Homo sapiens: one gene and its partners. The protein of the gene in region 3 purifies or fractionates together with the protein of the main gene of each other region. This does not show direct contact. Each region holds a gene or a part of one and is shown on either strand. Other genes may lie near its edges.

The links.
Region 1: the proteins of IGBP1 (region 3) and SNX12 fractionate together in Homo sapiens (co-fractionation; one large-scale study listed by BioGRID). This does not show direct contact.
Region 2: the proteins of IGBP1 (region 3) and STAM fractionate together in Homo sapiens (co-fractionation; one large-scale study listed by BioGRID). This does not show direct contact.
Region 4: the proteins of IGBP1 (region 3) and GLO1 fractionate together in Homo sapiens (co-fractionation; one large-scale study listed by BioGRID). This does not show direct contact.
Region 5: the proteins of IGBP1 (region 3) and VPS4B fractionate together in Homo sapiens (co-fractionation; one large-scale study listed by BioGRID). This does not show direct contact.
Region 6: the proteins of IGBP1 (region 3) and PPP4R2 fractionate together in Homo sapiens (co-fractionation; one large-scale study listed by BioGRID). This does not show direct contact.
Region 7: the proteins of IGBP1 (region 3) and TES fractionate together in Homo sapiens (co-fractionation; one large-scale study listed by BioGRID). This does not show direct contact.

What each region holds. Positions count from the first base shown.
Region 1 is NC_000023.11:71,061,885-71,065,924, forward strand, and holds part of SNX12 (sorting nexin-12), read right to left. Parts: intron 2,828-4,040; exon of another isoform or gene 2,704-2,827; coding exon of another isoform or gene 2,701-2,703; intron 1,066-2,700; coding exon 970-1,065; intron 84-969; coding exon 1-83. UniProt on the Homo sapiens protein: May be involved in several stages of intracellular trafficking.
Region 2 is NC_000010.11:17,682,015-17,686,260, forward strand, and holds part of STAM (signal transducing adapter molecule 1), read left to right. Parts: intron 1-2,660; coding exon 2,661-2,736; intron 2,737-2,817; coding exon 2,818-2,913; intron 2,914-4,246. UniProt on the Homo sapiens protein: Involved in intracellular signal transduction mediated by cytokines and growth factors. Upon IL-2 and GM-CSL stimulation, it plays a role in signaling leading to DNA synthesis and MYC induction. May also play a role in T-cell development.
Region 3 is NC_000023.11:70,143,141-70,147,386, reverse strand, and holds part of IGBP1 (immunoglobulin-binding protein 1), read right to left. Parts: intron 755-4,246; coding exon 559-754; intron 1-558. UniProt on the Homo sapiens protein: Associated to surface IgM-receptor; may be involved in signal transduction.
Region 4 is NC_000006.12:38,692,784-38,697,029, reverse strand, and holds part of GLO1 (lactoylglutathione lyase), read left to right. Parts: intron 1-4,246. UniProt on the Homo sapiens protein: Catalyzes the conversion of hemimercaptal, formed from methylglyoxal and glutathione, to S-lactoylglutathione. Involved in the regulation of TNF-induced transcriptional activity of NF-kappa-B. Required for normal osteoclastogenesis.
Region 5 is NC_000018.10:63,388,414-63,391,946, forward strand, and holds the end of VPS4B (vacuolar protein sorting-associated protein 4B), read right to left. Parts: intron 2,664-3,533; coding exon 2,562-2,663; 3' UTR 777-2,561; downstream 1-776.
Region 6 is NC_000003.12:72,999,592-73,003,837, forward strand, and holds part of PPP4R2 (serine/threonine-protein phosphatase 4 regulatory subunit 2), read left to right. Parts: intron 1-4,246. UniProt on the Homo sapiens protein: Regulatory subunit of serine/threonine-protein phosphatase 4 (PP4). May regulate the activity of PPP4C at centrosomal microtubule organizing centers.
Region 7 is NC_000007.14:116,208,478-116,213,495, reverse strand, and holds the start of TES (testin), read right to left. Parts: upstream 2,958-5,018; 5' UTR 2,789-2,957; coding exon 2,762-2,788; intron 1-2,761. UniProt on the Homo sapiens protein: Scaffold protein that may play a role in cell adhesion, cell spreading and in the reorganization of the actin cytoskeleton. Plays a role in the regulation of cell proliferation. May act as a tumor suppressor. Inhibits tumor cell growth.

The DNA of each region.
Region 1 (4,040 bases), 920 kb from region 3:
AAAGACTCCTCAAAGATCCCTTCATCTCCTCGGAAAGGGAGCTGCCGCTTCAAGGCTTTCCCAGGCAGTGGTGGTACTACAATCTGCAGGCACACACAAAATTCCAGCCACATGGGAGAGAGACAGAGTGGGAATGAGATGGTAAAGCACCGTGTACCTCATTTCTTATTAGGCATAGGGTCCATCCTGTCCCACAGCCAGCAACTTGCAAGAACTAAGACCATAAGAACAGTCAGGATGGCTCAGGTCAAAAATTAATCCGTTTCTGTGGGAAGACAGGTTTACCACCTCAAAAGAAGGAAATAAACTCCAAATAATCCTCACTTTCCTTAACAAGCCACTACCATTCAAGAATTTAGCTAGGATTTTCCTGACACTAGACTTTCCATTTTTAGCACCTACAGGAATTAAGTTGTACAACTTTACTAGCGACTAAGTGAAGTAATACTTTAAAAAAAAAACTTGTCCTGAACTTACCACTTTCTTTTTTTTTTTTTTTTTTTTTTGAGACAGAGTCTTGCTCTGTCATCCAGGCTGGAGTGCAGTGGCACGATCTCAGCTAACTGCAACCTCTGCCTCCCAGGTTCAAGCAATTCCCATGCCTCAGCCTCCCAAGTAGCTGGGATTACAGGCATCCACCACCACACCTGGCTGATTCTTGTATTTTTAGTACAGGCGGGGTTTCACCATGTTGGCCAGGCTGGTCTTGAACTCCTGACATCAGGTGATCCGCCCGCCTCAGCCTCCCAAAGTGCTGGGATTACAGGCGTGAGCCACTGTGCCCAGCCAGAACTTACCACTTTCAAGTTTCAAAAGGTATCCCCCCGATCTAAAATACTGAGATTTGATGGATAAGAATGTGTTCACCCTCTTCATTCCCTTCAAGACTTTATAGACTGTGGTTGTATGCCCACTCAGCCTATGCAGAGCTCCTCCTCCAAAGATGCCACACAGAGAACAAAGCCATACCTTGCTATCTCTCTCCAGCTCATTTTTCAGCCACTCAAAGTCACTGTAGCGCCGCCGTACGCAGGACTCCTTTAGCTTGAAGATAGGTAGGTTTGTCTACATGGAAGGAAAAATTAAAGAAGAAAGATGGTAATGTTCAGCCTGTGGTAGCCACCTGTCTGAGTAACTTGGACAGGTCCCAATGAAGAAATAGCTCCTATGGATCATGCTCCTATAACCCCTTCAAATCACCACCAGGTAAAAACCAACCCTTACCACATCCAACCTTATCATAGCTGATGATCAGAAGTCCCTTGCTGCTTTGAATTTATCCTACAAGTAGACTTGCAGTAGTATGTAAATATGTACATATAAGAGTTTTCACCAGGCTTGGTGGCTCACGCCTGTAATCCCAGCACTTTTGGAGGCCAAGGCAGGCAGATCACTTGAGGTCAAGAGTTCAAGACCAGCCTGGCCAACATGGTGAAACCCTGTCTCTACTAAAAATACAAAAATTAGCCAGGTGTGGCGGCACACACTTGTAATCTCAGCAACTTGTGAGGCTGAGGCAAAAGGATCACTTGAATCCAGGAGGCGGAGGTTGCAGTGAGCCAAGATCACACCACTGCACTCCATCCTGAGAGACAGAGTGAGATTCTGTCTCAAAAAAAAAAAAAAGAGTTTCACTGCATTTTATTATTTATAATAATAATAAATGTCTATGAATAGACAATAGGTTACAATGAATTATGGTATACCTGTATAGTAGAATATTAAATAACTATGAAAAGAATGTGAAAGCCAGGTGCAGTGGCTCACACCTATAATCCCAGCACTTTGGGATGCCGAGGCAAGGGATCACCTGAGCCCAGGAGTTTGAGAGCAGCCTGGGCAACCATAGCAAGATTCCATCTCTACAAAAAGTAAAAAAGCCAGGTGTAGTGGCAGTGCTCGCTTGTGGTCCCAGCTACTCAGGAGGATCACCTGAGCCCAGGAGGTCAAGGCTATGGTGAACTGTGATTATGCTACTGTAATCTGGCACAGAGACTCTGTCTCTCGAAATAAAAATGAAAGATCTCTATGTGCCAGTATGGAAAGATATTAAGTAGTAAAATCAAGGTATAGAACAGTATATATATATAGCTTGCCTCTATTTGTGTTTTAAAAAGGGATGTATATGTATATATTTATACTGATTAATAAAGTATTTATGAAAATATACTGGTAATGGTGATTGACTTTCGAGAGTAAGAGAAGACAACTGGAATGGGTGGAATAGTCACATTTTTCATTGTACAATTTGAATTTATCATGTGTACATATTACATTTTCCTTTAAAAAGTGAATTTAAATTCCCTGTAAAGAGATAAACACATCCAAGGTATGCCTACCTCTGCTCTTCCTGTCCAAATCCTCTCCATTCTACCAGTGCTCACTCAACTCTCACTTCAAACAAAAAAATTTTCTGACAACAACAACTGGATTTATTGGTTTTCCTCCTCTCTGAACTCTTCTGACAGTTATACTTTAGCATTGCCTGATACACTATTGTTTTATGCATCATGTTTGCCTTGTCTAACTAACTAATCTCATTAAGATCAGAAACTATGACTACTTCTGCATCTTCTAAAATGCAGAATATGCAAGTTACTCAATAAATGCTCAATTGATTAATAGAGACTCTATGTGTCTGTTTATCCTCTCCTCATCTAGAAAATGCATAAGAAATCACCATTACAAAAGTTGGCTTACCATAGCTTGCTCCCTGATATAAATCAGCTCATTCCCACATTTTAAACACTGAGAAGATTCCCAAGGCTCTAGTGGCAACACGAATCCCCTGACAGAAAACCCTGATCTTCACTCCTGTCTACAAGTTCTAAATAGAAATGGCCAACCACATGTATTAATACTGACCATATTTACTGCCAGTCAATTCAGGTGAGAGGATGAATAAAATAAACTAGTTATCTCCTTTCTCCACAACTGCCTCTTGGCAGGAAAAGAGCAACTCGAAACTCCATTAGAGCTTCACACAGAACCCACTACATCATGCTTTGTACTCCTTGACACTGGAAATTGTCTTTTCAGGATCCAGTTCTCAAATAGGCCATCAAAAGCCAAATAACTGGCCAATTGTACATTAAACTCCATCCAGGATCGTCAAGGTCCAAGGAATGTCAATAGGTTGAAATGGAGTGAGATTCATATAAAGTAAGATTACTAAACCATTATTTATTTAAAAGAATAAATAAGGGCTGGATGCGGTGGCTCACGCCTGTAATCCCAGCACTTTGGGAGGCGAGGCAGGCAGATCACTTGAGGTCAGGAGTTCGAGACCAGCCTGGCCAACATGGTGAAACCCTGTCTCTACTAAAAACACAAAAATTAGCCAGGTGCTTGTAATCCCAACTACTCAGGAAGGTGAGGCAGGAGAATCGCTTGAACCCAGGAGGCGGAGGCTGCAGTGAGCCGAGATCATGCCACTGCCCTCCAGCCTGGGTGACAGAGCAAGACTTTGTCTCAAAAAAAAAAAAAAAAAAAGAATAAACAAGGCCAGGCGTGGTGGCTCACACCTGTAATCCCAGCACTTTGGGAGACTGAGGTGGATGGATCACTTGAGGTCAGGAGTTCGAGACCAGCCTGGCCAACATGGCGAAACCCCATCTCTACTAAAAATACAAAAATTAGGCCGGGCATGGTGGCTAACACCTATAATCCCAGCACTTTGGGAGGCCGAGGCAAGCGGATCACTTGAGGTCAGGAGTTCGAGACCAGCCTGGCCAACATGGCGAAACCTGTCTCTACTAAAAATACAAAAATTAGCCAGGCGTGGTGGTACATGCCTGTAATCCCAGCTACTTGGGAGGCTGAGGCAGAAGAATCACTTGAACCCGGGAGGCAGAGGTTGCAGTGAGCCGAGATCATGCCACTGCACTCCAGCCTGGGCTACAAGAGCAAAACTCTATCTCAAAAAAAAAAAAAAAAATTAGCCAGGTGTGGTGGCACCATGCCTTATGCCTGTAGTCCCAGCTACTCCAGAGGCTGAGGCAGGAGAATCGCCTGAACCTGGGAGGCATAGGTTGCAGTGA
Region 2 (4,246 bases), on a different chromosome or scaffold from region 3:
TTACTGACCTGTGATTTATCTACAACAAAGAGCATCCCTTGTATGTGTATGGTTTGATAGTTTGATGAGTTTTGACAAATATATATACCTATATAAGTATCACCCCAACCAAGATAGCATTTAATCACTCCCAAAAGTTCCTTCCACCTTATGCAAGTACTAATATGCATTGTCACTATAGATTAAATTTCCTTTTCTAGAATTTCATAAAATGAAATAGTATTGTCAGTACTCCTGTGTCTAGCACTAAATGTGTTTCTAAGATGAATTCAAATTTTTGTATGTATCAATATTCCTGTTTCTTGGGGAAGAGGTATTACATTGTGTTAATATATTACAATTTATCCATTCATCTGTTGATGGGCATTTGGATTGTATCCAGGTTTTGACTCTGAACAGAGCCTCTGTGAACATTCTTATAAAGAGTACTGGGTAGTATGCTTTCATTTTCATGTCCTTAAGGGAAATTATGGTTCTGTGATTTCATTTGTTGTAAGCCTTAGATATTTGTTATTTGATTTCCAAATATTTGGGTATTTTTATGCTATCATTTTGTTATCAATTTGTAGTTTAATTTTGTTATGGTCAAAGAATGTACTTTGTATGACTTTAGTCCTTTTAAATTTATCAGTGTTTGTTTTATAGGACAGAATGTAGTCCATTTTGTTGAATTTTCCATGCACATGAAAAAAAATGTGTATAATGCCATGGGTGGGTGGATTGTTGTGTAATGCCAGTCAGGTCAAGTTTCATGATAGTGTCATTCAGGTATTCCATATCAGTACTTTTTTTTCTTGTGTTATCAAGTCATTGAGGGGGCATGTTGAAGTTTCCAGTAGATTTGTCTGTGTTTCCTTTCGGCTGTATCGATGTTTCCTTTATATATTTTGAAGTTCTATTTTTGTGTTCATGCACATTTAGAATTATGTTTCCTTGGGGGACTTAACCGTTTTATTATTATGTACTGTCTCTCTTTATCCCTGTTAGTATTCCTTGTTATGAAAACTGCTAACGGTAGTGAATAGATAAAAGTGTAGTTGGATTACAATCTTAATCTGCCATTTTTCTAGATGATTGGTTATGTTTCTTCTGTTTTCTCTTTCTGTCTTTTGTGTATCAATCAAATGGTTTTTATGGTTTTATTTTTTTGATTTAAAACTTTGTTTTGAGACAGGGTCTCACTCTGTCTCTCAGGATGGAGTACGGTGGTGCCATCACAGCTCACTGCATCCTCGACCTCTGGGGCTCAAGTGAACCTCCCACCTCAGGCCATTCACTGCGCCCATAGGAGCTGGGACCATTTCTGGCTAATTTTTGTATTATTTTTTGTAGAGATAGGGTTTCACAGTGTTGCCCAGGCTGGTCCCAAACTTCCGGACTCAAGCCATCTGCCCACCTCGGCCTCCCAAAATGCTGGAATTATAGGTGTGAGCTGCTGCACCCAAGCTATTTTATTTTCATTTTTCTCTTAAAAATATTTGTAGTGGTGGCTCTGTGTTAAATTTTTTCATTTTTTTTCTCTCTGTACTTCAGTTTGGGTACTTTCAGCATATTTTCAAATTTACTGATCTTTCATTCTTACCTGATTAATTCCATCCACTTTTTAATTTTACATATTTTTTTGTCTCTAGACTTTTATCTGGGCCCTTTTTAATATATTTCTTCATCATTATGTGGATGATTTCCAGCATGCTTATAATAGCTTATATAAAGTCCTTGACTGCTAATTTCATCATCTTTGTTATTTCTGCATTCTCAGTTGACTGAATTTTCTGCTAGTTGTGTATGGTAGTTTTCTTCTTCATATCATGTCTTCATATCATTTTATTGAATGCTTAGTACTTTGAATTTTATATTTTTGAGCATCAGGTGTTGTATTCCTGTTAAGGAGTATTGGACTTTATTTTTTCAGAAGTGGTTACATTCGTCTGTGGCTTATGTTGTTAGGCAGTATGTAGGTATGATTGAGCTGCATTGCTAGGGTCTAAACTCCCCTGTATATCCACTGAATCCTCTGGATTTTCAATAGATGCTTCACTGTGGCCTCATCTCTGACGACTGTGTGAGCGTTGGATCTCTTTAGCATATCGCCCTCGGTCACTTTTTGACCAGTTTCATGGAGTTTTTCACCTGTGCATGCGTGGGTTTTTCAGAAGGTCTTCACTGATACTTGGAAAGTGCCTCTAGGCAGAAAGTTGAGGCAAACTTCTGGCTTATCTAATTCATTTTCCTTCTTGGATATTATCATTCAGTACTGCCTGTGGCCTCATGTCTTTAAAAAGTTAACCTCAGTGTGGAAAATCTGTTTTTCCAGTTTTCTAATTGTTTACAACGGGAGTGTAAGTCTGGTCTGTTTTTCCACCCTGGCTGGAAGTGGAAGTCATGGCCTACCATTTTATTTTCAAACCTTTTTTTTTTTCCTACCCAGAATTAGCCTGAAATGCCTCATCTACGATTACTAATAAGAGAGCCTGTTAATTTTGTTTGAAAAATTTAAAGGAACTAGTTTACAGTTTTTCAACCGTGTTATTAATAAAAATTAAATTTCCCTACTTTATCATAGTCTCCCTTTTTATCGTAGTCTTTTGTCTATAACAGTTAAGGGGCAGGGGGAAGCTAGATGTATTATTAAGTAATTTTTACTTTTCTCATTTTTTTAGACCTAAGGATTGTCTTCGGTCTATTATGAGAAGAGTGAACCACAAAGATCCTCACGTTGCTATGCAGGCTTTGACTGTGAGTGGTTTCATTTTAATCTGTACCACGAAATTACCTGCCACAATTGAGCCCCTTTAACTTCTGATTTTGTGCTTTTAGCTTCTAGGAGCATGTGTATCAAACTGTGGCAAAATTTTTCATTTAGAAGTATGTTCAAGAGATTTTGCTAGTGAAGTAAGCAACGTATTAAATAAGGTAAGGAGCATTATTTCCAGAAATTAATTAAGGCAGTCTTCTTTCTTCACATATTTTATTGTTTAAATCTTCACAGAGGACTATTCTGTGCTTTTTAAGAAATCCTTTCTAGGCTGTGTCTATCCAGTATATAAATAAATATTATGTTTTGTTGAAGAGACTGCGGATTCATGTAACTTTGAGTTAGTTTTTTCAAGCCATATTAGAGTGTTTTTAACCTGTTCTTTTCCATCATACTTTCATCTGATAAGAAAACAGGTATTTCTATATCTAATTAAATAATATCAGTCTATTTTACATACTGTTTTTGTAGGCACAAGGTATTTTCCTAATGGAAAACCTTTCAGAAACACTGCAAAAAGTCTATGGCACCGTTGAGTTTTTATCTTTATCAATAAGGCTGCTTCCTGGCCATCACAGGATTTTAATACTATACTGCTATTCTTACTGGCTGAACCCACAGCTGGAGTTGCCTCAAAAGTGGTGGCGGGGGAGTTTCCACAAGGGACTGCCCCAAACTGTTCCAGATAGGGCCAGATGAGAGTCCAAAAAAAGAGGCACTAAATGCCAGGGTGATCAGTCTAAAGGATTTATTAGGGGAACTTACACAGGAGGGCTGCAGTTTATAGGAGGGTTTAAGGAATTTGGCTCAGGGTTGGGGCTGGTTTCTGTGTGTTTAGCAACATACTTGATCTTTTAGTGTTTTGGGCCACAACCTGAACAACTTTATCAGTGCCTGAGAATGTTCAAGGCCCCAGTTTGGGTCCAAACCTATGGTGGAAAACATGCAGCTGGCTAGGTCACAGAGCGGGACAAGGCACTCTGTTTTTCTATTGGGACACAGAAAGAAAGCAGGGAGAACTGGGGACCCTACAACTGCCCACTCAACTGTAGAATTCTAGTCACACAGTTCAAGAAATTTTTCAATTTTCAATTAGTAATATGTGAGTTTCCCCAGTAAAAATTTGTGCATTCTAAAAGTAATTATTTTTGGCCTTTTTAGGGGGAGTACTGTAAATCAAGAAAAAGTTTTTGTATGTTAAAAGGGAAAATGCCTCATGTTTTTGGGAAAAATGAATAGTTCCAGGTTACAGTAGAAAAATAGCAGTATAGAAATATAGTAAGAATGTAAAATTCTGTACTTTTCGAACATCATGGTTAAATGATAATTCTTTCCCTTTCCTGCTTTATGCAGTTAATATTTATTTTCTACTAATTAATAAACATTGTCTTTTAATGTCCTGAATGTCCATCGAGATTACAACTGTTTATGAAGAGATTCTAATACCATGTTTTTTGTAATGTAGGTGAAAAATGTGGTATACTTACCTAT
Region 3 (4,246 bases):
CAGTGGCATGATCTCAGCTCACTGCAACCTCTGCCTCCCAGGTTCAAGCAATTCTCCTGCCTCAGCCTCCCGAGTAGCTGGGATCACAGACGCGCACCACCACACCCGGCTATTTTTAGTAGAGGGGGTTTCGCCATGTTGGCCAGGCTGGTCTCAAACTCCGGGCCTCAAGTGATCTACCCGCCTCGGCATTCCAAAGTGCTGGGATTACAGGCATGAGCCACCGTGGTGGCCAGTTAGCACAGATTTTAAAGGTTTAACTCCCTATGCCTTCCCTCAGCAGCCACAGCTTTCCACAACCAAAACCAATTTTTATTTCAGAGACATTTCTGTCCCCCATGGTATACCACAAAATTACAAATGACTACAAGTGTGTTACAGATTAAAAAGCACTGGGGAACACATTAAATTAAAGAGAAAGCTACCTTAGTGACCCTTCGGCCTTTCTATACTCATCTTGATAAAAACAGTGATTTTATGGAGACTTAAAAGGATCTTAATTTGATCTCCTGTAGAATACTCAAATCTCTGGCAGTAGATTTCTCTGGCCAGGCTTACCTCTCTTGAAGAGTCTCTTTCTCTCAGGATCTTTATTTCCTGGTCAATGCTCTCAATCTCTTCTAAGCTGATATCAATCCACCTCTGAAGGTGAAGAAGATAATATTCACGAACACGCTCATCATCTGCTTGACCACTTTCCACAGCAGATTTCATTGCAGACAACCTATGCTCCAACTCCTTCTTCTGCTTGTATCTGTTCCACAGAAAAGCATTACCCATGAACTTACAAATGAAGAGGTATTCCTTCAAAAGAAGGCCTCAATAAGATTTTACCTTTGCAAATGATAGGGTAGTAAGCATACCAATTTCCACCTTGGCAGGGATATAGATTCTATACCCCAGAATTAGCCACCAGGCAGTTCCCTCAGATGACAAGTTAGGGCCCAGCAGGGGCTGAGGAGTACCTTCTGAAGCCAGAAAAATACAGAAGTAACCGGATCTCAGCAAGTCCTTTAGGGAAGATGAGTACCTTAGTCATTTGATTATACTGGCCTTTACTAGGGTGGGTGCTTAGTATCGCAACACAGTGCTTCCTGTGATGCTTCCATTTTGGGAACTACACCTTCAAAAAAATCATAGAATCTTAGGGGTCATTTACCTGCCACTGATGCAGGAATGCCTTGTGAAACAGCCTAAAAAATGATCAACTCTTTTTTTCTTCTGGGCAAAACTTTCGCAGCTCTTCTGGCTCATCCTTTTATCATCTGAAGACTCATAACCACCCTGGCTGCCTTTCTTTTTCAGGATGCATTCTAGTATGTCATCTGACAAATGTCTACTGAGTACCTATTGTGTGACAGGCACCATTCTCAGTGCTGGAGACACAGCAGCATATAAAAGTCCTTGGTCTCATGAAGCATTCATTCCAGTGGGAGTAGACAAAAAGAAATAGATGAGTTAGGTCGTGATAAGTGCTATGAAAGAGCAAAAAGTAAGGTCAAATGCATACAGTGATGGTGGAAAAGTAGCGGTGCTATTATATACAAGGTAGTCAGAAGAGAACTCTCTGAAGAGATGACAGTGAACAAAGACTTCAGGAAAATAACTAAGCCAATATCTAGAAGAGTATGCTAAGGAATAAAAGCAAATACGAGGGCTGTGAGGTGGGAGCGTGCCTGGCCTGACATGGCTGAGAAATAACAAGGTGGCCAGTATGGCTGAGATAAAAAAGAGTGATAGAAAATGAGGTCAGACATAGCCAGGGCCATAATGTGTAGAACCTGGTAGGTCACAATAACCAAATATCAAATATCATGGTATTTTGAATGGGAAAGCCACTGGAGGCTTTTGAATACATGACATGAATAGAGTGACATAAAAACACTTTTAAAAATATGGGCCACTCTGGCTGTTGTGTGGAGTATGGGCTGTGGGGGCTATGAGGCAAGGATATAAGCAGGGAAAGCAACTAAGAGGATACTGCCACAATCCAAGTGAGAGATGGTGACCTGAAATAGGAAGGTAGTGATGGAGATAGTGGGATGTGGGTATATTTAAAATATAAAATAGATAGGATTTGTTGATTTATTGGATGTAAGAGCCTGAAGGAAAGAGAGAAGTCAAGGAAAAACATCAAGATTTCCAAGAGACGTATCTTGAAATATCTCTGCTTGAAATCCCACTTTAGACTCTCCAGAATCAGATGTTCCTCAGTAGGTCTTCACCCAAATCAGGGGGTCTTAAGCTGAAGTCCACAGAGAGTTCAGTGTGGTGGGGGTGGTCCTTGAACTCCCACAAATTTTATACAGAACTCTACCTGTATGCTTTCTTTTTCTTTCTTCTTTTTTTTTTTGGCTGAGAAATTTTTATAGATTTTATCAAATTGTCAAAGGGGCAAGGGGTCCATGACCCATGAAAAGTCAAGAACCGGCCGGGCACAGTGGCTCAGCCCTGTAATCCCAGGACTTTGGGAGGCTGAGGTGGGTGCATCATGAGGTCAGGAGATCAAGACCACCCTGGCCAACATGGTGAAACCCCATCTCTACTAAAAATACAAAAATTAGCTGGATGTGGTGGCAGGCGCCTGTAATTCCAGCTACTCAGGAGGCTGAGGCAGGAAAATCGCTTGAACCAGGGAGTGAGAGGTTGCAGTGAGCCGAGATCGTGCCACTGCATTCCAGCCTGGCAACAGAGTGAGACTCCATCTCAAAAAAAAAAAAAAAAAAAAAAAAAAAAGTCAAGAACCACTGTTCTGAAAAGGCTATTATAAAAATGTTTAGGCTCTTCTGTTCCTTTTACCTAACAAGTGGACATTTACTATAATGTTACGAATAACTGACACATCATCATCCTAAGAAGCTTTTTGAGTAAAACACTACAAAGAACTACAATTCCTAGTTCATGAATGCTATCAGAGATATTACTTGAGAATGTTTAACTCCAATCTCACTCCTATCCCCAACCCTCTTTCCTGGATGTACCTAAGTCACGGGAAAAAAATAACATACGAGGACCTTAGGGTGATATAATTCAGGGTAAATTCAGGGTTAGTCTAGTAGTCCTCTGAATAAGGTTCTTTTGTTTCTTTTCCCATTCTCTGCATGCTTAAGGCCTAACTACTGCACTCTGCTCCTTCCTTTTCTTCTACTTCCTAGCTTCTATGACTTTGCTCATCATCTTTGTTTGTTTGTTTGTTTTTGAGATAGAGTCTTGTTCTGTCACCCAGGCTGGAGTGCAGCCGCACAATTTCAGCTCACTGCAACCTCCACCTCCTGGGTTCAAGTGATTCTCCTGCCTCAGCCTCCCAAGTAGCTGGGATTATAGGTGTGCACCACCACACCCAGCTAATTTTTGTATTTTTAGTAGAGATGGGGTTTTGCCATGTTGGCCAGGCTGGTCTTGAACTCCTGACGTCAGATGATCTGCCTGCCTTAGCCTCTCAAAGTGCGTTCCAGGCGTGAGCCACCGCGCCCAGCCTGCTCATCATCTTTTAAACTTCTAACTCAACACTTGTTCATTTGGGCCAGTGTTTTTAAAACTGTTTTAGTAAAAGAACCTTTTCTTCTAATGAGAGATGCCACGGAACTCCCATAATTAATAAACAAGTAAAATTTACCTTGGTTAAATCAGGAGGGCTGTCAACACCCGCCCCCCCAACCCCCAGGCATTGCAGTGAAATTTTAGGGCTCCAAGGAACATATGGAAAACTACTGTCTTAGACCTTCATCACTGTTATGGATTCTCCATGGTGGGCCATTACATGGAAATACTCCCTGTTACCCTAGAATCCCCTATCCTTGTAACCCTTCTGACCCTGGGCAACTTCCATTTCCTTTCTCTGTTCCCAAGCTGTTGAAGAGAGTTAAGGAATTAGAAACTTGTATCAAATGGGTCAACTACAAATCACTATTGTCAAACTTTGGCTGAGTGGTCACCCTTGCTCAGCCATCCTTTCGTTCATCTTTTGTGAAGACTATTATCACCATCACACTCACCAGATGGCCAGCCAATGTAGAATTCAATTTCCCTCTTCACCATAAAATCTCTGTAACTGGCCGGGAATGGTGGCTCACGCCTGTAATCCCAGCACTTTGGGAGGCCGAGGCAGGCGGATTGCCTGAGGTCGGGAGTTCGAGACCGGCCTAACAAGGAAAAACTCCATCTCGGCCGGGCGCAGTGGCTCACGCCTGTAATCCCAGCACTTTGGGAGGCTGAGGTGGGTGGATCACAAGGTCAGGAGATCGAG
Region 4 (4,246 bases), on a different chromosome or scaffold from region 3:
GAGGCAGGAGAATAGCCTGGGAGGCAGAGGTTGCAGTGAGCCGAGATCGTGCCATTGCACTCCAGCCTGGGCAACAGAGTGAGACTCCATCTCAAAAAAAAAAAAAAAAGAAGAAGGCTTTCTGTTGGGGGCAATATAACACTTTTGAAAGTTATTTGAGAGACAAAGTAGATAGTCTCTAAAGGGAATTGGTCTCAGTCTTATTAAGGTCGAAAGACAACATTTTTTAAACCAGAGAAATTTTTTAATTTCTGAAAATATGGCTAATGCAAGTGTGGAACTTCTCCTTTCTGCAGACTGAGGGTAATAAAGGTGCTATGGTCTGAATGTTTGTGTCCCCTCAAAATTCATGTGTTGAAATCCTAATCCCTGAGGCAGGTATTAGGAGGTGGGGCCTTTCAGAAAGTGATTAGGTAGGTCATGAGGACAAAGTCTTCATGATTAGGATTAGCATCCTATAAAAGAGACTGTAAAGAATGATCAAGCCCTTCTGCCATGTGAGGTCACAGTGCAAAGGTACCATCTATGAGGACAGACACTAAATCTCCAAGTGCCTTGATCTTGGACTTCCTAGCCTCCAAACCTGTGAGAAATAAATGTCTGTTGTTTATAAGCCACCCAGTTTATGGAATTTTTGTTACAGCAGCCTAAATGGACTAAGATAAGAGGCAATGGAGATTTTAACTTTAAGATGTAACCTCTTACAAAGCTCTCTAGTAATACTTCTAGAGAAATAAGTATCTTCATCACTAGAAGCAAATTTGAGATTTTGTAGGGAGAAAACACAAAGTCAAACAACGTTTTTATCATTGTTGTAGCTTTTTGACCAGTTTTGATTCATCCTGAAAATAGACATATTGTAACCAAATACACTCATATCCCATTGTGGGAGGCAGTTGTATAAAATTCATTTAGAGACTCTGCTTCTGACAAGATGAAGTAGACATACTTTTCCTTATTCCTCCTGCTAAGTACAACTAAAAACTCTGGACATGATATATAAGACAAACATTGGAAGACTCTGAAAGGTGGTGAGAAGAAGGTAGACTGGCTAGGGACCTTGAGACCCTAGGAACAACAAGGCAATGAGTTTCCTAAGTTTTCTTTTTGCCTCATATTGCCCAGACTTGAAGCTGAAGAAGCTAGTAACCTGGAAATGCTGATGGACACAGACCAAAAAAAAGCCTAATGAAAGCCTGCTCTCTAGCCACAGGACCTGGAAATGGGCAGCATTTCCTGGCAAGAAAGAAAACTTTTAGACAATAACTGCTCTACTCCAACTAAACTCCATAGAGAAAACTGTGGCCTCAGTCCCACCCATGCCAGCAAAAGCTGAGTGGGGAGCCTAGATTTTCACCCAACCAGATGTAATGAGCTGCCCAGCCTTCCCCTGCCAAGGTGATGTGGGGGAAGGCTGGGTAGGGAGCCAGGACTTTCATCCTGCCAGGCTTTCCCCTCTTGCCATATCAATGGAGACACATGAGGAACCTAAAATTCCACCCCAACCCAGCAGTGGAAATATTTAAGATAATTATAAGCGGGAGAAGGTACAGGAATGTAAAGAGAGGTGAGGTTTCTGTACCTTGTTCAAACTAATAAAATGATGTCACCAAATGACTGATAAGTTATGTGTGTGTGTGTATACATATACATGGGTATATGTATATACATATATACATGTATGTCTGTATATATGTGTATGCGTATATGTATATATATGCCATATGTATATACATATATAGTAACACCTAGAGCCACCATTTAAAAAGCTATACAAAGAGATACATGCAAAAACACTACAGATAAATGAAAATTGAATTTTAAAAAGTTCCAGTGACCCAGAGAAAGGCAAAAAGAAGACAGAAAACATTAAAAAAGGAAGAACAAACAGAAAACAAACATGAATAAAATGGCCAACTTAAGCCCTAACATTTCAGTACTTACATTAGATACAAATACATTAAGAGACAATGATTGATAGAATGGATTAAAAAACATGCCCCAGCTGTATGCTGTCTACATGAAACTCACTTCCAATATGATAGAGACAAGGTAAAAGTAAAAGGGTAGAAAAGATAATTCATGCAGATATTCATCAAAAGAAAGCAGGAGTGGCTATCTTGATATCAGATAAAGTAGACTTTGGGGCAAAGAAAATTACCAGACATAAGAAGTACATTATACAGTGATAAAAGAGTTGTGATTGACCAAGATGACACAGTAATCATAAATATATGTTACTAAACAGCAGAGCTAGGGAACACATGAAGCAAAACTGATATAACTGAAAGGAGAAATAGAAAAATCTAAAATTATAGTTGGAGACCTCAACACTGCTCTTTTTTTTTTTGAGATAGGGTGTCACTCCTGTCACCCAGGCTGGAGTGCAGTGGTGCCGTCTCAGCTCACTACAATCTCTGCTTCCCGGGTTCAAGGGCTCCTCCTACCTCAGCCTCCCAAGGAGCTGGGGCTACATGTGTACACTACCACACCCAGCTAATTTTTCTATTTTTTGTAGAAATGGGGTCTCACTATCTTGCCTAGGCTGGTCTTGAACTCTGGGGCTCAAGCAATCCAGCCACCTCGGCCTCCCAAAGTGCTGGGATTACAAGCATGAGCCACCAAGCCCAGCCAACGCTCCTCTTTCAACAATTGATAGAACTAGACAGAAAATTAACAAGGAAACAGAAGAACTCAGCAATACCATCAACAAATAAGATCTAATTAGTATTTATAGAATGTTCTACCGAACAACAACAGAATTCCCCTTTTTTTTTCCAAGTGTCTGTAGAAAATATACCAAAGTAGACCATGCCCTGGGTCCTAAAGCCAACTTCAGCAAATTTAAAAGAATGGAATGATGTATTCTTCAGCAACAGTGGAATTAAACTAGAAATCAGTAGCAGAAACATAATAAGAACATCTTCAAGCACTGGGAAAATAAACAGCACACTTCTAAATAAATAATCCATGGATTACAAAGGAAGTCTTGGGAACTTTTTAAAAATATTTTGAGCTGAGGCCGGGTGCAGTGGCTCACGCCTGTAATCCCAGCACTTTGGGAGGCTGAGGCAGGCGGATCACGAGGTCAGGAGATCGAGACCATCCTGGCTAACATGGTGAAACCCCGTCTCTACTAAAAACACAAAAAATTAGCCAGGCGTGGTGGCGGGCACCTGTAGTCCCAGCTACTCGGGAGGCTGAAGCAGGAGAATGGCGTGAACCCGGGAGGCGGAGCTTGCAGTGAGCCGAGATCGCTCCACTGCACTCCAGCCTGGGTGACAGAGCTAGACTCTGTCTCAAAACAAAACAAAACAAAACAAATATATATATATATATATATAGAGAGAGAGAGAGAGAGAGAGAGAGAGCTGAATGAAAATGAAAAAGGGATCATAGCTAAACAGTGCAAAGGGGGAAATGTATAGCACTGACTGCATACATTATAAAAGAGGAAAAGTCTCAAATTAATAACGTAAGCTTCCTCCTAAGAAACTAGAAAATGAAAAGCAAAGTAAACCCAAAGGAAGCAGAAGGAAGGAATTAGAGAAGCAGAAATTAATGAAATTAAGAACAGAAAATCAGTAAAACAGAGCTGGTTCTTTGAAAAGACCAGTAGAATAGACAAACCTGTAGCAAGACTGACAATGAAAACAAAGAAGCACAAACTACCAATATCAGGAATGAAATAGGGGATACACTACAGACCTTTCTGACATAAGAAAGATAAGGGAATACTAAAAACAACTTTGTATACATAAATTTGACAACTTGAATTGGACCAATTCCTCATCCAATATGAACTAATATGATGAGTCCTATAACTTAAGGCAATTGAATTTATGATTAACAAACTTCCAAAGAAGATTTGTCCAGACCCAGGTGATTTCACTGGAGAATTCTGCCAAATGTAAAAGAAGAATTAACATCAATTATACACAACCCCTTCCAGAAAACTGAAGACGGGAGAACACTTCCCAATTCATTTGATAAAGCTAATATTACCCTGATACCAAAAACAAATGAAGACAGTACAAGAAAACTACAGACCAATATCTCCAATGAATATAAATGTAAAAACCCTTGACAAAATGTTAGTAAACAGAATTCAACAGTATATATAGAAAGAATTATACACCTTAACCAAGTGAGGTTTATATCTAGGATGCAAGCCTGGTTCAGTATACAAAAATCAGTCAGTATAATCCACCATATTAAGAGGGTAAAGAAGAATCACATGATCATA
Region 5 (3,533 bases), on a different chromosome or scaffold from region 3:
AGAGAAAAATCTTAACACAGCAGCAGCAGCAATTTAACTGCTAAAGAAACCCAAAAGTAGGGTGGGGGTAGTTTGGGTGGTCTTCCTGCAAGAGGTTACATGGTTCATCATCATTAGGTTTTAATGGAAATACGTGATGTGGACTAGCAAAAAAAAGAAAGATACCATATTAAAATAAGAGGAGGATACAAATGAAGGGATGAAAGTAGGAAAGAAAAGGGCACCTGTGAAAACTCACAAACTTAAAATAACATTAGTGTCAACAATGGGCACTGTGTTGCTTCACTTGCAACATACAGCACCATCAGGTAGGTATGCCTCTTTATCAACTCTGAAAGTGGCTAAATGGTGCTTCTGTGGCACTAATCAAGTACACTCATTCTGTTTTTCTGCATGTAGTTGACAGTGGACTCAGAAGTCAATTCTCTATTGACATGTTTTATAATTATAGAGTCCTTATAGATTTCTCAGGGTGAGACAAAATGCTTTCAAATATCCAGGGTGTAAGTCATAGAGATGCTTAACAACTATGATCTACTTGCTGGCTCAGAAAATGTCTACCTAAACTTTATAATTACTGGTCAAGAGCCAGAGAAATAGAACATGCCCATTCGGATTCCTTTGAGTATCTGTCCATAAAGAACACACAGCAGTACTGTATAATTCTGAGGCTGATAAACAGGTAAGATGTATAAATTATCTTATCCACAAAGAATTCAGTGTTAGTTTACTAAGTTAGTTCTCAATCCTCACATAAAAGTCATTGAAAAACAGAATTTTCATATATACATTAATAATTTTAATGATTTCTTTGTATCTAACCAATTTAGGTAATATTTTCTTTTACACAGAAGGTCCCAAAATAAAGAATAATACACAGAATACAGTCAATAGGTTATATCAATTTACTTCACATAAGAGCATAATTCAGGCCTTTTCCATTTAATAACAAAAACAATCTGTACAGAAAACCCAAAGGCAACCACATAGCATATGTAAAATGTGCAAATACACTTTAAAATGCAAGTTATTCTATAGCATTTGCAAGATAGAATTTCACTGTAATTAGGGAATCTAGTTCATCCTAACTTAATAGTCTTTTGCATGTATAGACAATGCAATTCTACAAGGCACAACTCAGCGTTGATGCTAAAGTATGAAACACATCCTCAGATTATTTATTTGAAAATATTAAAATAGCATCGTTTATTATTTTTTAATGAGTCATGAGCTCATTTCTAAAGCTTCATAAAGCATTACACTGATAACATATGTGTGGTCAGGACAAACTGTTCCCTGAACTTAAAAGGTGAAGGACAAGACCCCATATTATTATCCTGTATTAAAAAAGGAAATATACATATATGTACACAGACACCCCATATCACAGACAAGAAACTTCCCATAATTCAAAGGGAGACCATTTCCTTATTAGCAAAGGTGCGCATTACAGTATTTCATGACAGTTAAAAATTACACACCTACCACCTGTTTTGGTCAATCTTGCTAAAAAAGACACTGAAATAGACAATTTTCTTCTTTAAGGTAAAGACAATGTCTAATTTAGAAAATCTTCCTCTTGAGATTGCACAGTGAAAGGTATCAGTTAATTAAATATAAAAGCTTACCGTTTTTGTTTTTTTTTGAGACAGAGTTTTATTCAGTCGCCCAGGCTGGAGTGCAATGGCGCTATCTCGGCGCCCAGGCTGGAATGCAGTAGCGCGATCTCAGCTCACTGCAACCTCTGCCTCCCAGGTTCAAGTGATTCTCCCGCCTCAGCCTCCTGAGTAGCTGGGATTACAGACACTCGCCATCATGCCCAGCTAATTTTTGTATTTTTAGTAGAGACGGCATTTCACCATGTTGGCCAGACTGGTCTTGAACTCCTGACCTCAGGTGATCCACCCATCGTAGCCTCCCAAAGTGCTGGGATTACAGGCATAAGCCACCATGCCCAGCCAAAGCTTACGCTTTTAAAGAAATTATTTAAATCTACACAGAAAAAAATATCAACTTATTAAAAACTATTAAGAGCACTGTCTATAATTCAAAATCTTTCAAACCCAATCACAAAGCTCTTTGCTGTTTTATTGCCCATCCCTGAGTAAAGATTCTATCATTTGTAATTTTTTAATAACGTAAATTTTACATTGATAAGAATGATGTTTAACAATTTTTTTGAAAATATAAAATAAACCCTATATCATTTTAGTAAAAAAAAAAGAAAATATAAATGCTCTTTGCAAAGACCACCATTCATAAAAATTGTAAATATTTGTATGTCAATTTCTGACATCCTTTTTACTGGGTAATTTCTGTTTTTATGCCGTTCATATATCGCTCATTTCCTCATAACCTGTTATTTTGTACCTTTTGTTAATAGGAGTATTTAATAAGTAATGGAGGAAAAGTACAATATAAAACCTAATGGAACTCTGAAGTGAGATGTGTATTTCCCTGTGGTAAAAGAGTTTTACTGGAAACAATTAATGCGATCCAAATAGACAAAAATATCTATGAAAGAAAGAATACATATGGTAAGCATCTTCCTTGTCTTTGGCTTAGCCTTCTTGACCAAAATCTTCTGTAAACTTCTTTAATTTCAACAAGTCATGTTCATTGACTGTAGGTTTTGTGTTAGATAGTGACCGCAACATATCCGACTGTCAGGGAAAAAGAAGGGTAGGGAGGATATTAATAATAGAGTTAACAAAATAAAAAACCGTCATATTATCATTATTGCTATGAACTTTAACCTAAGTTTAAATATGAATATTTGCAGTCTGCCATAAGATACTAACGATAAACTCCCTATTCTTTTTTTTTTTTTTTGAGTTGGAGTCTCACTCTGTTGGCTCAGGCTGGAGCGCAGTGGCGTGATCTTGGCTCATTGCAACCTCTGCCTCCCAGGTTCAAGAGATTCTCCTGCCTCAGCCTCCCAAGTAGCTGGGATTACAGGCACCTGAAACCACACCTGGCTAATTTTTGTATTTTTAGTAGAGATGGGGTTTCGTTTTGTTGGTCAGGCTGGTCTCGAACCCCTGACCTCAGGTGATCCGCCTGCCTCTGCCTTGCGAAGTGCTGGGATTACAGGCGTGGGCCCCTGCACCCGGCCCCTATTCTTTCACAGATCTTTCATGATCTTTGATCATGTTATTCCTTTGTGTAGAAACGTATACTTTCTTCCCCTGAACTGATCAAATGGCTCCCCAATACTTATCAGAAGGACAATCCCCTTAGTCTGAGGATCAAGGCCTCCAAAGTATGTTCATGATCTAATTTCTGGCCTTATCTCTTTTTCTTAAACGAGATCAATTTTCCAAGTCAGTATAATTCAAAAGGAAAATATCATTCACTTACACTTAAGTGAAGCAGAATACCATTCTATGAAAAATCTACTAACCAGAATTTTAAAATAATTAGTTACAATTAAGATCGAAATGGTTAGAAAAATATGCTAATATCAGAGATTCATTAAAAAACTAACTTCTAAGCCTAGACTCCTGTAAAAGGATATGAAAAATAATGAAAAG
Region 6 (4,246 bases), on a different chromosome or scaffold from region 3:
TTTGATAAAGTACATTGCCTATAAATGTATAAATAATTGAAAGTTTCTAAAAGATAGCTTTTTAATATCCTGTCTTACTGGAACACCAAGTGGCTGGGGAAGTTATCTGATTTTTTTTGGACAGTTATTTTATCCTGGTAGAAGAGGACTTAAAATTCCCAATCCTCCACCCCATATTCGGTGTTTATGTATTCACTAAGCATGTTTTGTACTGAAATGATTGGTGTAGTTAGATTCTTATATTCAATGGAATTTGGAAAATATTTTTTATTTTATTATGTAAATAGCAGCCAGTGTTTATGCATTTAGCTTTAAGCTTTGATTTCTTTTTATCAACATGGCATATCTTTGATACTGACATTTGCAGAGTTTCTGCTACCTATTTATGGCTAAACTAAGCTTTGTCTAGTATGTGAGATTGTAACGAGAGAATGAAAATGAAAATTTAAAGAACAGCAATTTAGACTTTTCTGATGTTTTAGGATGGGTGGATTGCTTAAGATAAGCATTTCCACCGGATGTGGTGGCTCATGCCTGTATCTCAGCACTTTGGGAAACAGTGGGTCACTTGAGCTCAGGACAAAAAATTTAAGTTACCTGAGTGTGTTGGTACATGCCTATAGTCCCAGCTTCTCCAGAGGCTGAGGCAGAAGGATTGTTGGAATGTGGGAGGTTGAGGCTGCAGTGAGCCATGATGGTTGGTGCCACTGTACTGCAGCCTGAGTGACAGAGTGAGACTCTGTCTCAAAAAAAAATTTCATAGTTGTTTTTATTTTCACTGATGCATTATAGCAAGAAAGCATTAACAGAAGTAGTATGTGAAACTGTTTATGGATCAAAATCAGTGACCCCCCAGGCTGCTTAGTTTTCTTTTCAAAAGACAATTGATTTGACACTTGCTTTTAGCTTTAGAGAGGTTTTAGAATTGTAAGTATAGGCTTTTACAATGGAGGAGGTTGTAGGAAAAATGGAGGAGGCCGTAGGAAAAATTTGAACATTTTTACTTCTTAGTCTATTAAAATTACCTGTAAACATCTGATGTAGGAAGTTAGGAAAGATGCCAAGACATACTAAATTGATGTGAAGAGGGAAACTATATATGTATATAACTAAAATAATTAATCCCCAGGTGAATTGTTTCTGGCCACTTCAAAAAATTGTTTTTATGTTGGAAAGAATACACTCTTCTGAAGGTAATGTAGTTTCTGACATCATGCTAAATATATAGTATGCGCTGAATAAACAGGAACATATGGTGTGTTTCAATCATGAATTTAAACACTTGATGCATTTCAGTCATGGATTTAAAGGTATTTGATGGGTTTGAGTTGCAATTATTATCCTTTTTGACGGTCAAGTTGTCTCCCATTTGGTCAGTGGTAGCCTTTTCCAGTTGGCTCCAGAGTCCTTTTGACGTGACCTTAGTAGTTTTTGATAGTATCCTTATTCTCTGGTATAAGAATATGTTCCAAGCTCATTTCCTGCCCCAGATGTGAATCAGATATTTCTCAAGAAGACCTGCCTTTTAGTGGGAAATGGCATTTCAAGACTACAATCTTGGTGGTAGAGAAGTTTATTATTACTCAGCTACATAAAATACTAAGACTTGCAATTCAGAATGAGGAATACAGCGTTTTAAAAAGTTTTTTTTTTGTTTAGGTAAAATATACTTATATAATTTACTGGCCAGGTGCAGTGATTCATGTCTGTAATCCCAGAACTTTGAGAGGCTGAGGCAGGTGGCCCAGGGTCACTTGAGCCCAGGAGTTCGAGACCAGCCTGGGCAACATGGTGAAACCCGTCTTTACAAAAAATATAAAAAATTAGCCTAACGTGGTGGCATGCGCCTGTAGTCCCAGCTACTCCCAGCTACTTGGGAGGAGGAGGTAGGAGGATCACCTGAGCCTGGGAGGTTGAGGCTGCAGTGAGCCGTGATTGTGCCACAGCACTCCAGTCTGGGCAACAGAGTAAGACCTTGTCTCAAACACACACATGCACACTTGCACACTTATGTAATTTACCATCTTTACCATTTTAGTTTTCTTTCTTCTTTTTTTTTATTTTTTTGAGATGGAGTCTCGCCCTATGCCACACTGGATCGTAGTGGCGCGATCTCGGCTCACTTCATCCCCCACCTCCTGAGTTCAAGCGATTCTCCTGCCTCAGCCTCCTGAGTAGCTGGGACTACAGGCACACACAACTAATTATTGTGTTTTTAGTAGAGACAGGGTTTCACCATGTTGGCCAGGATGATCTCTATCTCTTGACCTCGTGATCCACCTGCCTTGGCCTCCCAAACTGCTGGGATTACAGGCGTGAACCATCGCCCCCGGCCCCATCTTTAGCATTTTAAGTGTACAGTTTGGTGGTAATAAATACATGTATATTCTTTTTTCTCCCCTTTTATCTCTCCTGTTCCTTGCTCAGTCTCTAGTAATCATCAGTCTTTAGACTCTTACCTTTGTGAGATCCACTGTTGTAGCTCCCACATATGTGAAAACGTGATGTTTGTCTTTCTGTGCTTGACTTAACTTCACTTAACATAATGGCCTATAGTTCCATCCATGTTGTTGCAAATGACAGGATCTAATTCTTTTTTATTGCTGAATAATATACCACATTTTCTTTTCCATTGATGGGAACTCAGGTTGGTTCCTTGTTTTAAAAAAATGTATTTTTGAGGCAAGGTCTTGCTGTTGCCCAGGCTTTAGTGCAGCAACTCAGTCATAGCTCACTGCAACCTCAAACTCTTAGGCTCAAGGGATCCTCTTGCCTCAGCCTCCTGAATAGCTAGGACTTACAGATAGGGTACATGCCACGATGCCTGGCTAATTTATAATTTTTTTTGTAGAGACAAAGTCTTGCTATGTTGCCTAGGCTGATCTCCAACTCCTGGCCTTAAGCAATCCTCCCAGAGTGCAAAGATTACAAAGCATGAGCCATTGCACTGAGCTGGTTTCATATTTTGGCTGTTGTGAATAGTGCTGCAGTAAACATGGGAGTGCACAGGGATTTTTCTTTTCTTTTCTTTTCTTTTCTTTTCTTTTTTTTTTTTTTTTTTTTTTTTTGAGACGGAGTCTCGCTCTGTCACCCAGGCTGGAGTGCAGTGGCGCGATCTCGGCTCGCTACAACCTCTGCCTCCTGGGTTCAAGCGATTTTCCTGCCTCAGCCTCGTGAGTAGCTGGGATTACAGGCATGCGCCACCACGCCTGGCTAATTTTTTTGTATTTTTAGTAGAGATGGGGTTTCACTGTGTTAGCCAGGATGGTCTCGATCTCCTGACCTCGTGATCCATCCACCTTGGCCTCCCAAAGTGCTGGGATTACAGGTGTGAACCACTGCGCCTGGCCCAGGGTTTTTATAACTTTTTGCATACCAGGAATCCTGGTTCTCTCAAGAACACAGGCAGGGTATGATAGAATCAGGATGTCTTGTAATTACTGATTGTAACCAACATTACACATCAGAAAGTCTAAAATAATAATGCGAATATTACTGCCACCAATATAATTACTAGGAATGTTAAATTTTTTTTTTTTTACATATTCTCTATTTCTAGCCCCCATTTAAAAGTTTTTCTGTCTCCCTTGTCTGAGCATATTGCTATTACGTAACTTTCCCTTTTGTTTTTTTTTTTTGAGACAGAGTCTCACTCTGTTGCCCAGGCTGGAGTGCAGTGGTGCGATCACAGCTCACCGCAACCTCTGCCTCTTGGGTTCAAGTGATTCTTGTGCCTCAGCCTCCTGAGTAGCTGGGGTTACTGGCACGTGCCACCATTGCCTGGCTAATTTTTGTGTTTTTAGTAGAGACGGGGTTTCGCTGTGTTGAACAGGCTGTTCTCGAACTCCTGGCCTCAAGTGATCCTCCCCCTGCCTTTGCCTCCAAAGGTGCTGGGATTACGGGCATAGTCACTGCCCCGGCTGACTTTCCCTTTTAACTGTCAATCTTAGTTTTACAGTAGGTATATATCTCATGCCTACAACCAGTCCTTATGTCATTGTCATTGTATTCTCTCTGTCTCTCGTCAGTTTGGTTGTCTGAATGAAGCTTATTCTTTAATAGATTATTGAAAAGCGGCTAATTGAAACAATATTTCTGGAGTTTTTTTTTGTTTTGTTTTTTTTTGAGACAGAGTCTTGCTCTGTTGCCCAGGCTGGAGTGCAGTGGTGCGATCTTGACTCACTACAACCTCCACCTCCTGGGTTCAAGCGATTTTTCTGCCACAGCCTCCTGAGTATCTGGGATT
Region 7 (5,018 bases), on a different chromosome or scaffold from region 3:
GTCCTCCTTAATTCTTTTTACATGAAATGTTAATGTGGAACAATGATGCTTTTCATCTGTCTGGAAGAAATTCCTCATGAAATCAACAATGTAAAAGTTTTAGAAGGAAAAAATGTCATACATCTTAAAACAGAAGTCATATTAGTTGTATTTAAATGGTTGTATCTTTGTTCCAACTTTTAATCTTCCTTTTCTCAAGGTACATTCAAACTATAAATTTTCTTGAATAACTGAGTCAAAAAGAAAGGAGACTTGAAAACTAGGTACCAAAATAGGGTGAGGACTCTGCTGGTAAATCAGATAGTCTTGTAATATTTCCTTCTTTGGACGTGTTAGAAAACAATTGCTAAAAGGAACATAAATTTCTTTTTGAGAGTATGGCTAAGATTGTGAAATACATTCCTGAGATTTCCAAATTTTGTACTGGGAAACTTTTTGTTAGACTATCAAGCCTATTAAGGGACTCACAAATTGGAGTCATACGGGACATCTCTGCGGTTTTTTAATAGCTTCCAATTTACCAGTTGAGGATTCTAAGAATCATCAGTGAAGACAACGTAGTGAAACAGGGATTTGTTATATCATGGGATTCTCTCTAAAACCTTTAATTTATGGAATTCTTTCTGGGGTGGTAGAGGCGGAGAAGAGGAGGATTAGAGAAAGTTAAGATTCTTGGTTGAAAATATAACTTTTAAAAGTAAAGTGGGGGATAAACGAGGAAAATTACACCATATGTCAAGGGCATTATTTATCATAATCCACATTTTCAAACTCTAAGGAAATTGTTTATAAACAACGTCTGGATTTTTCCTTTGCAAGCATATACAATTTTTAAGTTTGAACTTCTTCCCTCAGAATTACTCCTTGTCTCAAAAAGTTTCAAAAATGTCTTTGATTTTTCTCCCCCTATTAAACAGACTTTATTTTTAAAGCATTTTTTAGCTTCACAGCAAAATTGAGCAGAAAATTCGAAGTTCCCATGTACCTCCCCCATGCCTTCCTGTCTCCAGCAGCCTCCCGGACTACCAACAACCCGTATCAGTGCAGTACATTTGTTACAAGTGATGAAACACATTGACACATCATTATCCCCAACATACATAGTTTACATTAGGGTTTACTCTTGGTGTTCTACATTCTATGGATTTTGATTAATGTATAATTACATGTATCAGCCATTTTATAGTATCATACAGAATAGTGTCATTACCCTAAAAATCCTGTGCTTCACCTGTTCATCCTCGGCAGCCCAAAATATGTTTACTTTTGCAAAGTTGTCTTCAAATAAATACTTAAAAGCAAGGACAAGACCCCCCAAGTTTTAGACAAGTACTAAATTAAGTAGCTCTTACCTACTTGAAAACTAAATGAGAGTAGTATTCATCAACAGAAAGCTAAGCGGGCAAAATGCTTTCCCCGCTTTTCCCCCATGACAAGCAAGATTAACCAAAAATATTACAGTTATTTAAAAGAAAAAAAGAAAGAAACCAAATGGGAAGAGAATAGAATGCAATCACGCTACCATTAACAATTTATGTTTTTCTGTTCTTGGATACCTTTTTGAGTGCCTGAGAATTTTAGTCGCAAGGAATGAAAAAAACTGTTTTCTCATTTCGAGTTTTTATTGGTCAATAGCTTCCTAACCGAAAACTCTGCAGTCCTAACACAATATTTTGTATCCATTTTCAAAAATCCAGTTCTGGGCATAAAATAGAATTAATGCTCAAGTCAAAAACTTTGTGTTTAGAAGATAAAATATTAGGAACCATGAGTATGAGAAAAACAAAAACTGTTTTCTGTATTTTTCCCTTCCTCTCTCTGCAAAACTTCTCTATTTGATAAGGGACAGCTAGCTTAAATTTACCACAAAGTAAAACATGAGCAAATCCCCTGGAACGAGGAGAACTTTCGCACAGGGCAATTCACTCGAATGTGACATCAGCATTCCTTCTGAGTCATAGTCTGGTCCCCACCCTTTTCTCCCAGGCGACACCAGGCTCCGCATAACCCGGGAGTGGCTCAGGTAGGGCCGTCGGTTCCAGTGCCTGCGAGGCAGCAGCCAAGCTGAAAATGTCTCCCTGCGCTGAGACGCTGGTGACAACCGCCCTTTGGGACTACCTGCCAAACAAGGAGAATGCGCTCTTTGACAGATAATTCCCTAAGAGGGAGGCACTGCCTCGGTCGGTAGACAAGTAATGAATGACCGAAAAAAAAATCACATTAGAAGTTATCACCAGCACGGGTGCGAAGGCAGTGCATTAAATCAACACTCATTTTAGAGCGCCCCAGACAGCCCAGCCGGAAGGGAGGAGATCAGAGCTGTCAAAGCACAGCAGAGCCCCAAACCACAAAGGCTTAATGAAATTCAACTTCCTGAGCCAGGAAGTGTCACGGTCTCGCCCGCACTCGCCCTAAGCTCGTCCTTTCCTTTTGAGGAGGCACAGGCAGAGCTGAAACATCTTAAGTAAAGTTTCCAACACCTACAACCACTGGGATTCCGTGAGACTGGAGAGAAGAGTCCCGCGCCCGCCCTCGCTCGCGCTTCCAATTCTGTCGCTCCCGAGTGTGGGGAGCTGGCGGGGCCGCCGAGCACCTCCTCTACCCAGGGGGCCAGGTCCCTGGGCCCGGGGCACCGCAGACCCAGAGCCGGGCTCACACCGGGGGGCCCGCGAGCCCCACCCACCTCGGCACCTCCGGCCGCCGCGCGCCGCGCGACCCGCGCAGGTGAAGCAGCCGCCGCCCGCCACGAGCGCCCCCCTACCTTCTTCACTTTGTTTTCCAGGTCCATGTTAACGCGTCCTATGGGTCCCCTCCTCCTCCTATCCGGGATCCCACGGCCGGGTTCAGCTGGCCTCCGGCTCCGCTGCGAACACGGGAAACCTGCGGAACTCCCGCGGCGCCGCTCAACAGCCACTCGCCCGGCGCCGTCGAACTTCCGCCGCCCAGTCCGCCGCAGCGGGCCTGCGGCCCGGACCCGGGAACAAAGGGGGCCGGGCAGCCAATGGCAGCCGGGCAGCTCCGGGCCGCCGCCAATCACCGAGCGCCGCACGCACCTTCGCGGCCCGAGCGCGGCGCTGGCAAGGTGAGAGGCGGGGCGGCGTCCGAGGCGGCGCCCTGCTGGGCAAGCTCAGTGACCCTGACCTGGTCTCCGAAGGGATTCTCTGGGCGTCCACGGGCCGGCTTCTAAAGAGCTGGGATCCCCAGCCTCCCTCTAGCTGAAGATGGAGAAGAACTTTTTCCATTTGGCAATTTGTACCTGTGTTTGCCCAGGACTTTTTATTTGGGTCAAGGGGAATAGTTATCCCAATACTAACTTCTCAGTTTATTTTCAGGGTAAAGAGAGAAAAAAAAGAGAGAGAGAGAGATTGTAGGGATCGTTAGGGATTCCTGTGATGGACCTTGGGCACTAAATTCAATATTGCGTTGTGGAGATGCCCTTTCCTCAATTGCTTTTTTCCACAATCCCAAATACTGTCAAGAAACCGTATCTTACATCCCTAAAGTCAGCGAAGATTCTTAGATTGTTTTCTGAGCATTGGGTTGTTCAAAAGTAAAGATGATGTGAATCACTTCAGAAACAGGTTGTGTCATTCCTTTGGAAGCAGAGGGTTGCCCTTTGTCTCTGTGTGAGATGGTGCTAGGCCTATCGCGTGCTCAGGCTTTGATGAAGCAGAGTCATCACATTGGTGCACCAAAGCTGAATTCATTTCATGCCCTAATTCAGGAGCAATTGCATCTAATACCATCAGATTGGTCGGTCTGGAAGGGAGCCTAACGATTACTTAGTCTAGCTTCCTCACTTTGCAGGGAACTGAGGACTCCAGAGGTGCAGGGACCTGCCTAATGTCTTAGCCTGTTGGGGACAGAGGCATTGCTCATGAATCTAAACAACTTCTCAAAGATGTTTGGGGCTGGAAGCACAGCATGTTGACTAAGGAAAAAGAGCAGTCAATTTTCTTCAATTTGTGGTTATGGCAAAAAATAACATTGCCCAGACAGCAGGTGACCTAATTTGGCACCTACTTTTAAAAATAACAAAACAATATAAAACAAACAAACAAAAATTCCCTAATAATGCAGATATTCAGGTCCAGATGTATGTCTGCCTTGCCTCGAGAAATTTGGTAGCTAAAAATATCCAAAATTCATTTTAGCCAATACTTGCAACTCTGCTTACTTGATTATTTGTTAACACAGAGCATTGATTTATAATGTGCATGTTTCCTTTATCCTATTAAGAATTAAAACTGAAATTACCAAAATGAGTTATGCATTTTTCTTTTCAGCTGATGTAAAACTTTTCTGTGTCATTTTCCCAAACCACCTTGAAAGGTGTGGGCCCCTGCAAAGTCTGCCCGTTGTAAGTGTATAGGATCATGAGGTCTAGCTATGACAAGGCAATTTTGTTTCTTTCAGAGAGCTTAACAGATGGAAAATGTCCAGTAAAGCAATTTAAATAAGGCATCAAACAAATGTTGTAACATAAATTTTGGACCCTTATTTGATGAGGTTGCAGAGATGACACTAAGAAAACCATCTGGAAACTTTTTTTTTTTAACTGTCAACTTCTGCCTTTCTCCCATTCTTCCTTCCCAACCCTCTCAGCATTACATTGTGTGTGTGTATCATTGGCAAGGATGGAAATAGAAATTCAGTGAGTTTTATCTGGAATTATCACTGTGCCAATTATATAAAAATAATTATAGATTATGTATAAATTATAAAAATAAAATTGAGGTAGATAAGTGTTAAGAGAGTTAAATTGTAAGTTTTTGTTCAGTTATTCAGGTGTTAAGCTACAGTTATTAAGGAGGTAGAACTGGCATGGTTTGATGAGTACATGTAGTTGATGACAGTGGAATGAATAGAAGATGGCACACATTTCTATCTTGATCACCTCTATGGATAGCTCAGAAAGAGAGAAAATATAGGATGATGGTCAGGGTTTTGTTCAGTTGTGCATTCTTTGGGGCTGGTGGTGGACATAAAGGATACAACTTTTAATATATTGAGTTTGA